2 separate regions of the Homo sapiens genome follow, and region 1 is linked to region 2. The links come from fine-mapping of genetic effects on gene expression. Tissue or cell type: sun-exposed skin. Region 2 holds a variant in brackets; the other region holds the start of a gene. All regions are shown on one strand. Distances are from middle to middle.

The links. PIP is the estimated chance that this variant, and not a neighbour inherited with it, causes the effect.
Region 1: SULF2 starts here. The variant in region 2 is fine-mapped to the expression of SULF2 in sun-exposed skin (GTEx, PIP above 0.99).

Annotation. Positions count from the first base shown.
Region 1 is chr20:47,781,723-47,788,158 of GRCh38, reverse strand. It overlaps SULF2 (sulfatase 2), which reads left to right and starts at 2,678. Exons shown (of 21, transcript NM_001387048.1): 1 at 2,678-2,816. LOC124904920 (a long non-coding RNA gene) reads right to left here and starts at 2,405. Exons shown (of 2, transcript XR_007067618.1): 1 at 1,997-2,405; 2 at 1,274-1,754. It overlaps LOC124904921 (a long non-coding RNA gene), which reads left to right. Exons shown (of 3, transcript XR_007067619.1): 3 at 743-819. RefSeq lists enhancers at 1,391-1,560, 5,660-5,719.
Region 2 is chr20:47,884,668-47,892,920 of GRCh38, reverse strand. No RefSeq gene overlaps it. Among named protein-coding and RNA genes, the nearest start is that of LINC01523, 94 kb to the left of the region's middle. The variant A/C (reference allele first, on the strand shown) is at 4,065.

The DNA.
Region 1 (6,436 bases), 100 kb after region 2:
CCAAACCAGGGACAGCATCAAAAGGGTTGAAATCCCACTGGCCAAGTTTTTGACTATAGGCAAGACCCTTTATCTCTCTGAGCATCAGTTTGCTTGAAAGATTGTCAGGAGGATTACATGAAATGACCCGGTGGAAACAGCCATTGACCGCAGAACCTGCCAGAGTTGCACTGTCCAGCATGGGACCCCTGAGCCACATGTGGCTGGTCCCAATTGAGATGTGCTGTAAGTTTAGAATGTACACCAGATTACAAAACTTAGTAAGAAAAAATAATGTAAAAATATCTCATTAATTTTATATTGATTACATGTTGAAGAGATCGATTTTGGATATACTAGGTTAAGTAAACTATATTATTAATATTAAAATTAATTTCACCTGCTTTTTTCAGACAGGGTCTGACTGTCACCCAGGCTGGAGTACAGTGGAACAATCATGGCTCACTGCAGCCTTCACCTCCCAGGCTCAAAGTGATCCTCCCACATGAGCCTCCCGAGTAGCTGGGACCACAGGCACATGCCACTATGCCCAGCCTAATTTTTGTATTTCTTGTAAAGATGGAGTTTCACCATGTTGCCCATGCTGGTCTGGAACTCCTGAACTCAAGTGATCCGCCCACCTCGGCCTTCCATACTGCTGGGATTACAGGCGTGAGCCACTGTGCCCGGCCCTCACCTGTTTCTTTTTACTTTCTAATGCCACTACTAGAAAATTCTAAATGATATATATGTCCTTCTGCAGAGATGAGGCGGAAGGAGAGGGGTCTCCATTATTTTTCGGTCTATGATGGTGAAGCCTGACATTCTGTCCCAGGGCAAAGAAGGTGGGAGCTGTTCAGCCTTATCAGTGATGCCAAAGGTAGGGCCAGCACCTGACTTGGAAAAGCAAGTGCAAGGTTTTTCTGATTTATTTAGGCTCTAACTTGATTGGCGTGGCTAACAGAGGTTATGGGGAGGAGCCTAGAGCTCCAAACCCAGTCAGGAGATCCGATTTGAATTTCAGATTTAAAAATGAATGATTTTTTAGTACTAACTTCCTCCCCGTGGATGTCTATATTTATTTGTTAAGTCTGACAACTCTACCATGGAGGATCATATCAGAGAAAGGAGATGCTAGGTTGAAAAGTAAAAACATCCTAGGATTTAAGAGCATGAGCCGGGAGCTAAGGCTTCTTGGCTTCACAGGATCCACCACTTATAACTGTGTGATCTTCGGACAGTTACTAAACCTCTCTTGGTTTCCATGGTAAAACGGGCATAGTAACTTACTGTGTGAGATTGTCACAAGATTTAATAAGTTACTGCTGTTTACAAGTGCTTTCCCACAGCGGCGTCTGTTTCCCCTTAGCTAGCAACTCGGCTGTGTTTTCTGCAGCTGCTGGTGAGTTCTCTGCCCGCTCTTTGCCCACCCGCGTCAGGCCGGTCCCCCTCCGGCCTCTTCTGTGGCGCGAGGGACAGCGGAAACCACGGTAGACAGCACCCCCTTGAGTCCAATTCCTCCCCTTTCGGAGGAAGCCGGTTTCTCCTTTCTATGCTACTCCCGGGCCATTTCTGGACAACAGCTGCTATTTTCACTTGAGCCGAAGTTAATTTCTCGGGGAGTTCTCGGGCGCGCACAGGCAGCTCGGTTTGCCCTGCGATTGAGCTGCGGGTCGCGGCCGGCGCCGGCCTCTCCAATGGCAAATGTGTGTGGCTGGAGGCGAGCGCGAGGCTTTCGGCAAAGGCAGTCGAGTGTTTGCAGACCGGGGCGAGTCCTGTGAAAGCAGATAAAAGAAAACATTTATTAACGTGTCATTACGAGGGGAGCGCCCGGCCGGGGCTGTCGCACTCCCCGCGGAACATTTGGCTCCCTCCAGCTCCGAGAGAGGAGAAGAAGAAAGCGGAAAAGAGGCAGATTCACGTCGTTTCCAGCCAAGTGGACCTGATCGATGGCCCTCCTGAATTTATCACGATATTTGATTTATTAGCGATGCCCCCTGGTTTGTGTGTTACGCACACACACGTGCACACAAGGCTCTGGCTCGCTTCCCTCCCTCGTTTCCAGCTCCTGGGCGAATCCCACATCTGTTTCAACTCTCCGCCGAGGGCGAGCAGGAGCGAGAGTGTGTCGAGTGAGTGTGCGTCTGTGTGTCCCGGCGAGGGTGCGCGCTCGGCGCCGGGAGCGCGGCCAGCCGAGTCCGGAGGCATCGGGAGGTCGAGAGCCGCCGGGACCCCAGCTCTGCGTTCACTGCCCCGTCCGGAGCTGGACTTCGGGGCCGGGGCCGGGGCCGTGCGCCGGGGACAGGCAGGGCCGGGTCGCGGGCCGCGCGTCCCCCAGGCCGGAGGTAAAAGCGCTAGCGCGCGGAGGGCTCGAGGAGGGCACCGCGGCTGGGCCCCCCGCGCCCCGGGCCCCAGCCGTCCGCGGCTCCCGGCCCGACGCTCCCCGCCCCGGAGCGCGCCCGCCTCCCCTGCGTGGAGGCCGGCGGGCAGGCGAGCGGGGGGCGGTAGCGCCGTGCCAAGGGGCTGGCTGGGGCAGCGTGGCCGGCCGGGCTGGGGCGATTTAAGAGCGGTCCGGGCGGGGTGCGGAGCCGGACTTTGGCTGGGGCGGCGCGCGGGGAGGGGGCCGGGGGCGGTGGCGGCGGCGTTGGGGGGCGGGGAGGAGGCAGGAGGAGGAGCAGCAGCGCTCGCCGGGGGATGCAGCAGCGGCAGCGGCGGCGGCGGCGGCGGCAGCGGCAGCGGCGGCGCGGAGTCCCCTGCGCCCAGCGGCCCGGCCGGGCTGCGGCAGAGGCGGCGGCGGCGCCCCGCTCCGGGTGAGGTTGCCGGGGCCGTGCGCGCTGGTGAGTGGGGCGTGGGGGGCAGGTGGGTGGCTGGGGGACGCGGGGCTCGGGCGGGGGCTCGCGGCGGCCGGAGCCTTCCCCGGCGTGAGCCCGGCCGCGAGCGCCGCCCAGGTGAGCCGGGGCTGGTCCGGACCGCCCGGCTCCAGCCCCAGCGCTGCTTGCGGAGGTGGGTCCGGGCGGGCGGGAGGGAGGCTCCGGCGCCGGCCGTCCGCAGAGGGATGACCTGTTTGACCCCGCTGGCTGGCGGGCGGGCGAGGACTTCCCGCCGCGCCCCTGACCCGCGGACACGGCACACCGAGCACAGGCGGCCCCGGGTAGGGGAGCGCGCCTGGGCCGGCCATCCGCAGGGGCATGGCCTTGTTGACCCTTAGGGTTTAGACCCAAGGGACCGGTAGATGCCAGCCCACGTGGGGCTTGTCCGGGCAGGACTCGGGGAAGCAGTGGGCCGGATCTTCAGAGTGGTTGGAAACTCGCAGACACCGAAAGGACAAACAGGATCGAAAAGGCAGACTTCCTCCCAGGCCAGGGCAGAACGAGTTTCCATCGCCTGGCGGAGGGATGCTCCCCTCCCCGGCTCCTCGGGGTTTCAGAAGTCTAGCGGTGAATTCTAGGAGTGCACTTTTCCAAACATTCCTTATAGTAGTTCGTTCATTCGTTCTACAAGCATTTCTGGAGCACCCCCTCGTGCCGGGCACCGCGTTCTGTTCCAGGGAAACGCGGCTGAACAGGATCTGGCTCCTGCGCGCCAGAAGCTGCCGGTTCACTGGGAGGGCAGCAGGGTAGAGAGATGCCGTCTCGGGGTGGAAGATGGAAAGGGAAGCCTGCAATCCTAGTTTGCACACTGGCCTCGGTCCGCAACTCCCCCACCTGCACGCAGTAGGCCCAGCACACAGTAGGAAGAGCAAGCCAGACCTGCCTGTGACGACCCTCTCCTCCTCCTCCTCCCCCTTGAAAGCTTTGATTCATTCCCTGCCCCCCTTTCTGGAAAGTCTTCCTGCAGCTTGTTTTAATCACTTTTTGAGTTAAAAGTCAATATTTAATTAACCAAGTAATTACATTCAGCTTACGTTTCAATCTGGGTATTTGCTCATCTGTGCGTGTTGGGACACCCGCCCTCTCGCCCCTCCATCTGTCCCCTGCCTGTTTCCCACCGGGTCCACCCCCACTTTTGGGGCAGAGAAGGGGAGGCTGCGCTGGAGCAGGTTCTCAGGGGGAGACAGGGAGCAGGAGAGACGGGCTTTCTCTGGAGGACACCCCCGGATCTGCGCGCTCTCCAAATTTCAGCTTGTAGTGAATAGTGAAGGTGATTTCTTGACAGCCTCTGCCTCCCATTACAGAACCACCAGAGGGTTCTAATTAAATTAGAGCCAATCGTTAAGTATAGGAACGGGGTAGGGAGGACAGAACGAAGGGGGCCCCTTCCCTGTAAGAGATGTTCTCCCCAGCTTCGTCTCTCCCACATCATAGAGAAGAGAAAACTCATCCAGACAGCCTGTCGGATGTGTAATTTAGCGTTCTAATAAGCAGCTTGAAAGGCGAAGGTGGTGGGCTTGGCAGATGGCATGTTGGACCTTTGTACATGAAGGCCTCTTCCTTCCCCAGCTAAATTTATATACATAAAGGCCGTGATGTTGGCATCACTGCTGCAGCTGAGGGTCAATGTGGGTTTGGGGTTTGGGCTTTGTGTGTACTTCTTGGGTTTTTTATTTGAATTTATGGCTTTTTCTGAAACCCTAATAACATGTTAAATTTTCAAACTTGAGAGTAGAGTGATGAGTTGACTGTAAAAGTCTGGTCTTGGAGGAGGACAGCATAGCAGTGTGTGTGCATGCACGTGCATGTCCCCCAGTTCAGCTGCTGTCCAAAGAACCCAGTTGATATGCAGTTTCACACCTGATTTGGACCTGATTTGGGAGATAACATTTCCTTCTCACTTTTTCTGGCACTGGTTAGTTTATCTGCTTGGACCTGCCTCAAGAGGGCAGCTGGGTTAACCAGGCAGAATATCACCCAACTCTGTCAAGCTTTGGCCATTATCTGACCTTAGACTTTAGTCCTGCAGAAGGAGTCCAGAAGCCCTGTCCTACAGAAAAATATCAGCATTTCTGACCAGCTTGTAGTTAAAAGAAAAGGTTTAGTCCAGACTTAAGATAATTGGTAACACTTAAGTAGTTTTGTATGGGCCTGATCTGAGGCATTGATCTAAGCCCTTATACCTTACTCATTAAATCCACACAAATACCCTGTTAAGTAAGTACTGCCATTGTTGCCATATTAAAGATGAGGAAACAGGCACAGAGAGGATTGTGACTTGCCTACAGCTGGTCACAGGTAGAGCTGGGATTCAAGAGGCCCTCAAGCTCCGGGGTCCACTTGGAACCACTGGACTCTCCTCCATGACCTTGGCCTTTGTCCCAGATGTAGAAGAAACACATATGCAGGGGAAGAAAACACCTTCAGACAGTCAAACTTTGCAAAGTAAAAGGCCCTTAACTTTCCATAAACCCCCACTGTTCCGACAGAGAGTCCGGGTTTGTATTTGAGGTTTTTTGCCCCAAGGAAAACATGTGTCTGCCTGGTGCTTTTTCTTCTGCTTATGAGCAGACACACTGTCCCCTCCCCCAGTCAAAATGCAAAGGGAAACATCAAATGCAGCTGATGGAAAAGCCAGGTGAACCATGGTGAAGATTTCAGCCCACTCAGAGCACAGTGGCCAGAGAGCAAAAGCTCTCCTAGAGGTGAGACCTTCCTGTGGTTGGTGATGGAGTCTCGATGGCCTGGCCCTGGGGGTGGTGCCAGGGTGCTCTGTGTCAGGCCTGGGCGGATGTGGAAGATGGGGGCCTCTCTCAATGCTGATCTGCAGGTGAGGGGGCCCTCCCTGAAACCTGCTTTCTCTGGGCCTCCTTGGAATGGGCCTTGGTGGAGATCTACAGACAGCCCTGGCCCAGCCGGATTGAAGGCACTGTCTAATTGGGAGGGCATTAAGATCGTTATAATTAATTGGCATCCCGATAAATGGCATGGTTGCCTAATTGGGGTGGTTGCTAGGGAACGAGGCCTCACTTGGAGCCTAAAGGGGAAGAAGCGCTGGGCTGGCCACAGTTGGGTGTCAGGGTACAGATCCAGCAGTGAATGGACCGGAAGGGAGAGCAGTCCATCCGTATCTGCTGGTGTTTACTGAGCAGCTGCTGTGTGCAAGTTGCAAATGGAGTATCAGTTAGGGGTACTTGCCTAGAAGAACTGTAAAGTAATCAGGTTCCTTTCTCTTGCAAGCAACGGAAAAAGAGAAGAAAAAAACTCAAGCCAGCTTAAGGAGAAAAGAAGTGGACTTACTGGTTTTCATAACCAAAAGTCTTAAGGTGACTAACTCTAGCTTCAGACACAGCTGGACCCACAGCTCAGATTTTGTAATGAGAATCCATTCCTATCCACCGCTCCTCTGCCTTCCATGAGGCTGATGTCTCTCCAGCTCTGGGGCGGGCAGTCCCTGGCAGCTGTGGGCACCGTGGCTAGGAGAGCCAGACTGCCTGGCTCCCTGCCCAGCAGTGGGATCTGGGGCATGCTACTTAACCTTTCTGTGCCTTGATGTTCACATCCAACAAATGATGATGATCATAGCA
Region 2 (8,253 bases):
TATGGGATGGATAAGTCTATCCACCCTCCCTCGGGCCCTGGTAAGGACGTGGATGTGTCATACTCTTACAGGGGTAGTGAAATAGTGAGGCCCAACATTAAATCACCTACAGCAAGATACATCAGCCTCTGTGTCCCCACGCTGGAATCATGCTTCACCAGCAGGTTTACCTGAGCTGACTCCCCTTTGCAATGGTGCCTGCAGGTTTAGGCCAATGCTGTTCCTTGTGGAAGACAGAGAAGCCTCAGTTGGCCTCCGACTGTTGGCAAGAACAACATATTAAGTTGGCACAAAACAACCAGAAGCCCCAGGTGGCCCGTGCCCAGTGAGATAGGAGAGGGGCAGGAAGAACTGTGGAAGCTCAGGGAGGCTCTCATCCCCAGCCCCCTCCCCACTAGTCCCCATCTCTGCTTTCTTTTTCCTGTTTTTTTTTTTGTTTTGTTTTGTTTTTTTGAGACAGGGTCTGACTCTGTCACCCAGGCTGGAGTGCAATGTTGTGATCTTGGCTTACTCCAACCTCTGCATCCCAGGCTCAAGTAGTCCTCCCACTTCAGCCTCCCCAGTGGCTGGGACCAGAGGCACATGCCACCACACCCAGCTAAATGTTTTGTTTTTGTTTTGTAGAGACAGGGTTTTGTTGTGTTGCCCAGGCTGGTCTCGAACTCCTGAGCTCAAGCAATCTGTCCACCCAGCTAAATGTTTTGTTTTTGTTTTGTAGAGACAGGGTTTTTTTGTGTTGCCCAGGCTGGTCTCGAACTCCTGAGCTCAGGCAATCTGCCCACCTACACCTCCCAAAATTCTGGGATTGCAGACATGAGTCACTGAGTCCAGCCTGCTTTATTTTTTTTAACAGTACTTGGAACCTTCTAATGTACTAAGTACACATGTATTTTCTTTTTTTTCCTCTCTTCCCTAGAATAGGAGCTTAACGTGGGCGAGTATTTTTGTTTATCTCATTTATCACCCTATCCCCAGTGGCTGGAATAGCGTCTGGCACATGAATGGTGTGTTCTAAATAAATATTTTTAACAAATAAATGAAATATCCTACAAGAGAAAGCTAGTATTTGGAACTCACCCATCAACAGAACCAAAAAGCCGAAGACCTTCAGCCTGTCCCTACCTCTGAATGCACCCAGCCCCAGCAGATTAAAAACAGGAACAAAGTTGGGGAAGGGAGCAGGTGGTGCCACCCCGACCAAGGACCCCTGAGGCTTAGGCTGAATTTGAGCTGGAGAAGGGACTAACCTAGGAACTGGGCGTGAGATTAAAGTTGAGACTTGTCTGGCCTGGATTTTGTAACACCGAAACATGAGCTATTCCATTCATTTTTGTTTTTGTTTTTTTTGAGACAGAGTCTTGCTCTGTCTCCCAGGCTGGAGTGCAGTGGCATGATCTCAGCTCACTGCAGCCTCCGCCTCCCAGGTTCAAGTGATTCTCCTGCCTCAGCCTCCTGAGTAGCTGGGATTACGGGCGCCCATCACTAGACCCAGCTAATCTTTGTATTTTCAGTAGAGACAGGGTTTCACCATGTTGACCATGCTGGTCTCGAACTCCTGACCTCAAGTGATCTGCCCACCTTGGCCTCCCAAAGTGCTGGGATTACAGACATGAGCCGGCGCCTGGCCATATTCCACTCATTATTAGCAAGTCTGCTATTATAAATCAAGGTGACCAAAATCCTAGGAAAACTTCCCCAGATGTCATCAAGGAGCAGAGACCAGAGACCTATCAGCAGGATGGGGACTAGGGCGAGGCAGGGGAGGGAGGCGCTCATCTCTGGATTATCAGGGTGCAGCAAGTGAGGCATAAAATTTAAGGGGGCACCAAAAAATTCAGGATCAAAATAAATAATATTTTAGTGCAGAATTTTTTTAAAAAGTTAAATTCAATGCAAAAAAAAAAAAAACCCTAATGGGAAAGTTAACAACATTTCAACTAAGACACAATATGACCCTGTATTTGCATGACTTGGCCTCACTCACTCACCCTAATCTGGCCCCTGCCTCACAGAAGCTGCTGGAATGCAGCGGCTAGAGAACAATGAAGCTGTTTTCTGCTCCTATCCAATTCAGACCTTCCATAAAGCAGCTACAGGTGAGACCGTGATGAGCTGCCTATGCCAACCAGGACCACAATCTACCATTAGGACCACAGTGACCGGGTCCATGTTGCCTGTCCCCAGCTGTGCCCGGACGCTTTGGCTTAGAGGCTCAGGCCAGTGCTGCTTCTCCCGTTGACACCGGGCACTCATGAAGAGAAAACAGACAAGGCCGGGCACGGTGGCTCATGCCTGTAATCCCAGCACTTTGGGAGGCTGAGGTGGGCAGATGACCTGAGGTCAGGAGTTCCAGACCAGCCTGGCCAACATGGTGAAACCCCCGTCTCTACTAAAAATACAAAAATGAGCAGGCATGGTGGTGCCCAGCTGAGGCACAAGAATCACTTGAACCCAGGAGGTAGAGGTCGCAATATCGGGCAGCTGCACTCCAGCCTGGGTGAGAAAGTGAGACTCTGTCTCAAAAAAAAAAAAAAAGAGAAAACAGCCTCGGTTATAGGAACTCAGGCCTCCACACAGACACAATCAAGAAGCTTAGTTATTTAAAATGCAGCTAGCTCCGTGTGGGGGTAGGTTGGGGAATGATTCTTATTTTCTACTTTATTCTCTTTCTCTGTTACTTGGCGTCTCTGGCCATGAGCCTGTCATTTCTGTAATTAGAGCACAGATTGTGGGGAGGGGAAGGACAGGCCGCCTGGCAATGTGGTCCTGTTTTTCCTGGACCAGGCTTTGTGTGAGGACCTGTGCCCAGCGGGCAGATTCGGGTCCCTGAGGAAAGAGGAGGAGCCAGGTAGTGGGACATTTGAGGTGACAGCCCTTCCCCAGCTGCCCAGGGCCCGCTTGGCACCAATGGTCATTCCCAGCATGTTGGGTTGGCCTTCGGGGGTCTGGTCAGGACTCTCGGGGCCATCAGGGTCTGGCAGACCCAGTTCTGGGTGTGAAGACACCTGGGGCATCTAGACGCCCTCTCCGGCCACTCACACACCCAGCACTGAGAGGCCACAGCACGTCTGCCCACGCCTCTGTCCTTGTTCACTTGGCAGCTGGCCAGTCATCGTGGACACTGACCGTAGCTCGAGTGTAGGGTCCCCAGGTTTCTGCTGGGCCAGCAATTGTGCCCCTTGTGCTGCTGTATCTTGGGGTGCCAGTACAGGGTCTCCATAGGGATAGAGACAGCATCTCTGCACCAACCAGTGGGCACACAGCTGTGTTTCAGTACAAACACCTGGGCCAGCTGGACAACGCAGCCTGGGCCCAGCAGCTCTGATTTGCCTGAATCCCAGAGTTGGCATGGTGGGGTCATTCTTTCCAGCCAAACCAGAGAGCACGTCCTTGGGCAGGATGAGGAGGGTTCAGAGCAGGTGAATGGAGCTCTGCAGGGAATGACATCTCCTCCAAGAAGTGAGGGCCCTGAAATAAATCCAGGGACACTCTCTGAGCATCCCCAGGGGGCACACTCAGCCTCAGGGAGCAGAGAAATGTCAGCCGGCAAGGATAGGTCTGTGCTCTGCGGATGGGCCAGAAAGAGGGGGTGCAGCAAAGGAATCATAGTCGCAGAGGAGAAAACGGCCAGAGTCACAGCCTGATTTGTCCCTTTCTCACTGGGTGCTGCCAGGAGTCCAGTCCAAGCCAGCGACTCCCGAGCACAGGTATCAAAATGGACTGAGACCCTCTAATCGCCTCCTGGTGTCTTGAGATAGCCTCCTACCCACCGGCCCCCAACACGGGGCCCTGCACTGGCTTCTCCAAGAAGAAACTGGGGGGCTGAGGGGCTGACCTGTGGGGACACCTTTCACTCAGTGCCCGAGAACCTGCTGAATGTTTAACTTATCCTTAAAAAACATGCCTGCCTCTTTGCATGTCTAACTCTCTGTAAGGAGCATGTGTTACTTTGCTAAAGAAGGAAAACATCACTCCAGACCACCTGTGCATTTAGCAAACACCAATTCCCAGCCCAGAGCAGATTTGCTGCTGCAAAAAAGCAAAAGCTCAAAACCCATGTGGAG[A/C]CTTCAGAGGCCGCCTGGCCCCCAGCTCACCCTTCGGAATGCACTGACGGATGTGCTTGGGGCTGTTTCTTCTTGGTGTCTGGTGTCAGGAAAGAGAAGACACAGGGACACCAGTTGGGGGTTTAATCCCATCAGACCCAATCCTCGGTTCTCTGTGCCCCTTACATTACCCCCATCGAGACGCCGCTGGGGCTGAATGAACCACGAGCTGCTGCCCTGAGCAGGGAGTCAGATCCGTCCTCGGTCAGATGGTTGAAGCCGTGCATGACCTCTAGGGCCCTGCATGGGGATGGGGAGTCACACCTCGGTTTTATCTCACAGCAGGGATGACCCCTCACTGGGCACCCCAGCTCAGACCTCAAGGGAAACAGACCCGGGGGAAGGTGGGTGGAAGGATGGGGCCCCTGGTAGTAGGACTCACAGGGCAAGAGACCCCACCCACTCGGGCGATTCACACTCGGGGTCTTTGGGGCCCTCGCAAGAAAAGTTGGTTCACAGTGAACATAGGTCCTGCCATCCAGGGTCACAATTATCTGCAGCAGGGACAAACACCCACTCCCAAAAGATGAATTCAGTAAGGCAGAAACTTTAGCTCAAGATGAATTTATTGAAAATGATCCTTAGGCTGCCTGACGGAGTTTAAATGTTGTCAAATGCCTTTCAAAGGAGATTTGGTTCTTTATTGCTCTTCCTCAACCATGGGGGCCGGGAAATGATCTTCCCGAGACATGCAGGAGGGAAGCTGAGTTCACCAACACCTTCACCTTCACCCCTGCAAGGCCAGGCCCCCTCGCCACTGCTGCTAACCCAGGTCCCCTTTTGGCAAACCCAGAAAACTCACATTCCCGTTCAGTGTGATTTCAGATCTATACATGAATTAAGTGGGGTGTTTAAAAATGAAGCAATGGGAGTGTTGGGGAAAAAGTATTCTCAGGAAATGTGCATCTTGTGCTCCAGCCACGTGGTCCCCCCACCTCCGACGGCTTCAGGGCAGCTCCGTGGCCAGCTGCGCCTCCTCCCCAGAGTCAGCAGCAAGCTCAGGACATACTGCTTTCTGCAGTTCCAGGTCAGACCCTGGCCCTGGCTCCAGCCCAAGGCCACCTGCATGTGACATCTGGGAGACCCCTTCTTTGTGGCCAGTGATGTCCAAGGATCCTGCAGGGACCTAGAGCCTGTGGTCCCTGAGTCCAACAGAAATGCTGCCTGTGCCAGACAGGTGGCATCAAGCCTGCCATCCAACGCCATGGGCTGCAAGGGTGAACATCTGTGCTGAGTCCGGGGTGTAAGAGAGGCTGTGTCTCTTTCTTTTCTTTAAGTCCACTGCATTGTGACTGCAGCCTCCGTCCCCCTGGGCTGCTAGGAAATGCCATCTCAGCCATTCTTCCTCTCCCAACTTGAGAAGAGGTCCACATCACAGGCCTTGCCAGGGTCTAACGTTGGGAATGAGGGAAGCCAAGCTTTCTGCTCTCAGTCCCTGGTTATCATGAGATGCCACTCGGCCCTTGCAGTCCCTCAGGTGCACTGGGGCGGGCAGTGTAGCGACGATGAGCATAGCATCCAGAAGCGGACTGCCTAGACTCCACGCCACGTGTTGCCACCTATCCCTTGTGCAACCCTGAGCAGTGATTAACCACTCTATGCCTCAGTTTCCTCATCTGTCCAGTGACAGCACCCACCTGCTGAGGAGGTACAGTAAGGTCATAGGAGATGCTTAAACCAATCCCTGGCAAACAGGGGTTCCTCAGGCAGTAGAGGCTGTTCTGTCTGAGGCCCAAGACTGGCAATACCCCTGACACTCTAGGGAACGCAATGCAGGTCTCCGCCACTGTCCAAACACAGGCTTCAGCCAGGTCTCCGCCACTGTCCAAACACAGGCATCAGCCAGGTCTCCACCACTGTCCAAACACAGGCGTCAGCAAGCCTGCGCAGCTCTGCAGAAGGCTCGGCCCACCTGGCTGCTGGCCAAAGGCTCCCACCCTCCTGGACACTTGGGCAAATCTCTTCACTGGTTCAGTATTTTGCAAAAGCCAATAACTTCGGCCTTCTTCGATTCACTTGCCGTTGCCACCCAGTTCCTCCCAGCAGACACCACCCATATCAGTCTTCTGTTGTCACAGTGGTGCTGCATAACAAACCATCGCCCAAACTCAATGGCTTATAACACGAGCTTCTGTCCTCACACTTGGAGTCTGCAGGGTGACTAAGGTTTGGATGATCTGGGGCGGTCTAAGGGCAGCTCTGCTCCAGGCTACGGGTTGGGCTTGGATTGACGACACATGACTTCTTCTAGACCCGGGCACAAGAGGCAGCAGCTCCCCAGGACACACGCTTCTCGTGGCAGTGCACTCACGGCCTCTGCTCACAGTATGTGCGCTCATATTCTGTTGGCCAAAGCAAGTCACATGGCCAAGCCCAAAGTCAGTGGGGCAGGGATGAGTTCTTTAACCACAGTCAGAGAGCGAGGGGATTGACTATCTGCTAAACATTAACCTTAACTTTCACATCACCCCAAACCCTAACTTCTGACATTAGCAAGACTGCCTGCCTGCTTAAAATGGAGGAAAAGAAAAGGGGGAAACAAGAAGAGAAAAAGGTTAATGAATCTTACAAAAAAATTCCCACCAAACCTCCATCCCCACCAGGCTGGCCAAACTGCAACAGCAGACGCTGAAGTTGTTTTAGCCCCAGGAGAGTGTCCTGTGCTGTCACGTGATCTCTCCCATCCATCATTCCTCCCCTCGGCATCCCCACCACACAGGCCTGGCTAAGAGGGCCAAGCCCCTCCAGGATCTCCAAGACCCTGGTGCTTCAAATCCACGCTTACTCTGGGTGAGGTTCCAGATCAAGCTCTGTTGGGACACACTGAAGACACAATCTCTGCCACGAAAAACGTCGTTCTATGGAGGATCTGAGAAAATTCTAGAAAGTATAGACTGTAATCATATTACAGGTACAAGTCCACAAACATGGAAAGTTAATGTGATACCTCCCCAGAGACAAATGCAGAGACAAACAAAGCCAAGAACACTTGTGGCCGGGAGCAGTGGCTCACACCTGTAATCCCAGCACTTGGGGAGGCTGAGGCGGGCAGATCACCTGAGGTCAGAGTTCAAGACCAGCCTAGTCAACATGGCAAAACCCCATCTCTACTAAAAATACAAAAATTAACCGGCGTGGTGGCGGGCGCCTGCAATCCCAGCTACTTGGGAGGCTGAGGCAGGAGAATTGCTTAAATCCAGAAGGCAGAGGTTGCAGTGAGCCAAGATCATGCCACTCCACTCCAGCCTGGGTGACAGACTCCATCTCAAAAAAAAAACCACTTGTGAGGAGCATGGAGAGATCTCTGGGGAAGCTTCTCTGTCCTCCTCTTCTTTGGCCACACCAACACAACAGAGTGTGGGTGCAATAGAGGGGGCCTGTGGGACTCAGGGTGTCAACCTCACTGTGGAGTGAATGGCTCCAGAGCAGTGGTTCTGCAGTCACCAAAGCCACCAACACAACCTGGGTCTCAGATCAGAAATGAGCCGGGAACAGAAGGTTGGCAAGCAGGACTGCCTTAGAAAATCTGAGGCATTAAGCCCCTGACAATGCAACCTATTGCCCGATTCTTGCCCAAACTCAAAGTCTTGAAAAGAACGTTGTGGAGAAAGGGGCAAAATGAGGAGAGGAAATAAGGATTCTGAGAAACAAGGAAAGGGCAATGCCACATTCCCTCTCAAACCACCTGGAGTGAATACATGGTTCCCAATGCACCTGGAGACAAATGATGGTAAAACACTGTGCTATGGATTGGAGAGCCTTCGAAATGTTCTCTCAAAATGACTCCTTAATACAAATGTAGACACTATTCAGCAATCCCACAGCCCGAATCCACCGCAGATGGTGCCCTCAGCTTCTCTCTTGTTTCTCTGGGAAAAAATAAAACTGATGTAGAGCTGAAATCCTCTGGCCCTTGGAAGCAGACCATCATAGATTCAAATCTAGCTCCGATACTTTCTGGGTGACCTTGGGCAAGTTACTTAACTTCCCTGGACTTCAGTTTACTCATCCACAAAATGCATGTGATGCCGCAAAAGTTGATGTAACAGTAAAGGAAACGGCACAGATATAACATCTTGTGCCCTACCTGGTAGGTTATGAGATGCTTAGGCCAATAACTGAGGAGGTTAGTTCCCTTCTTTCCCTAGCC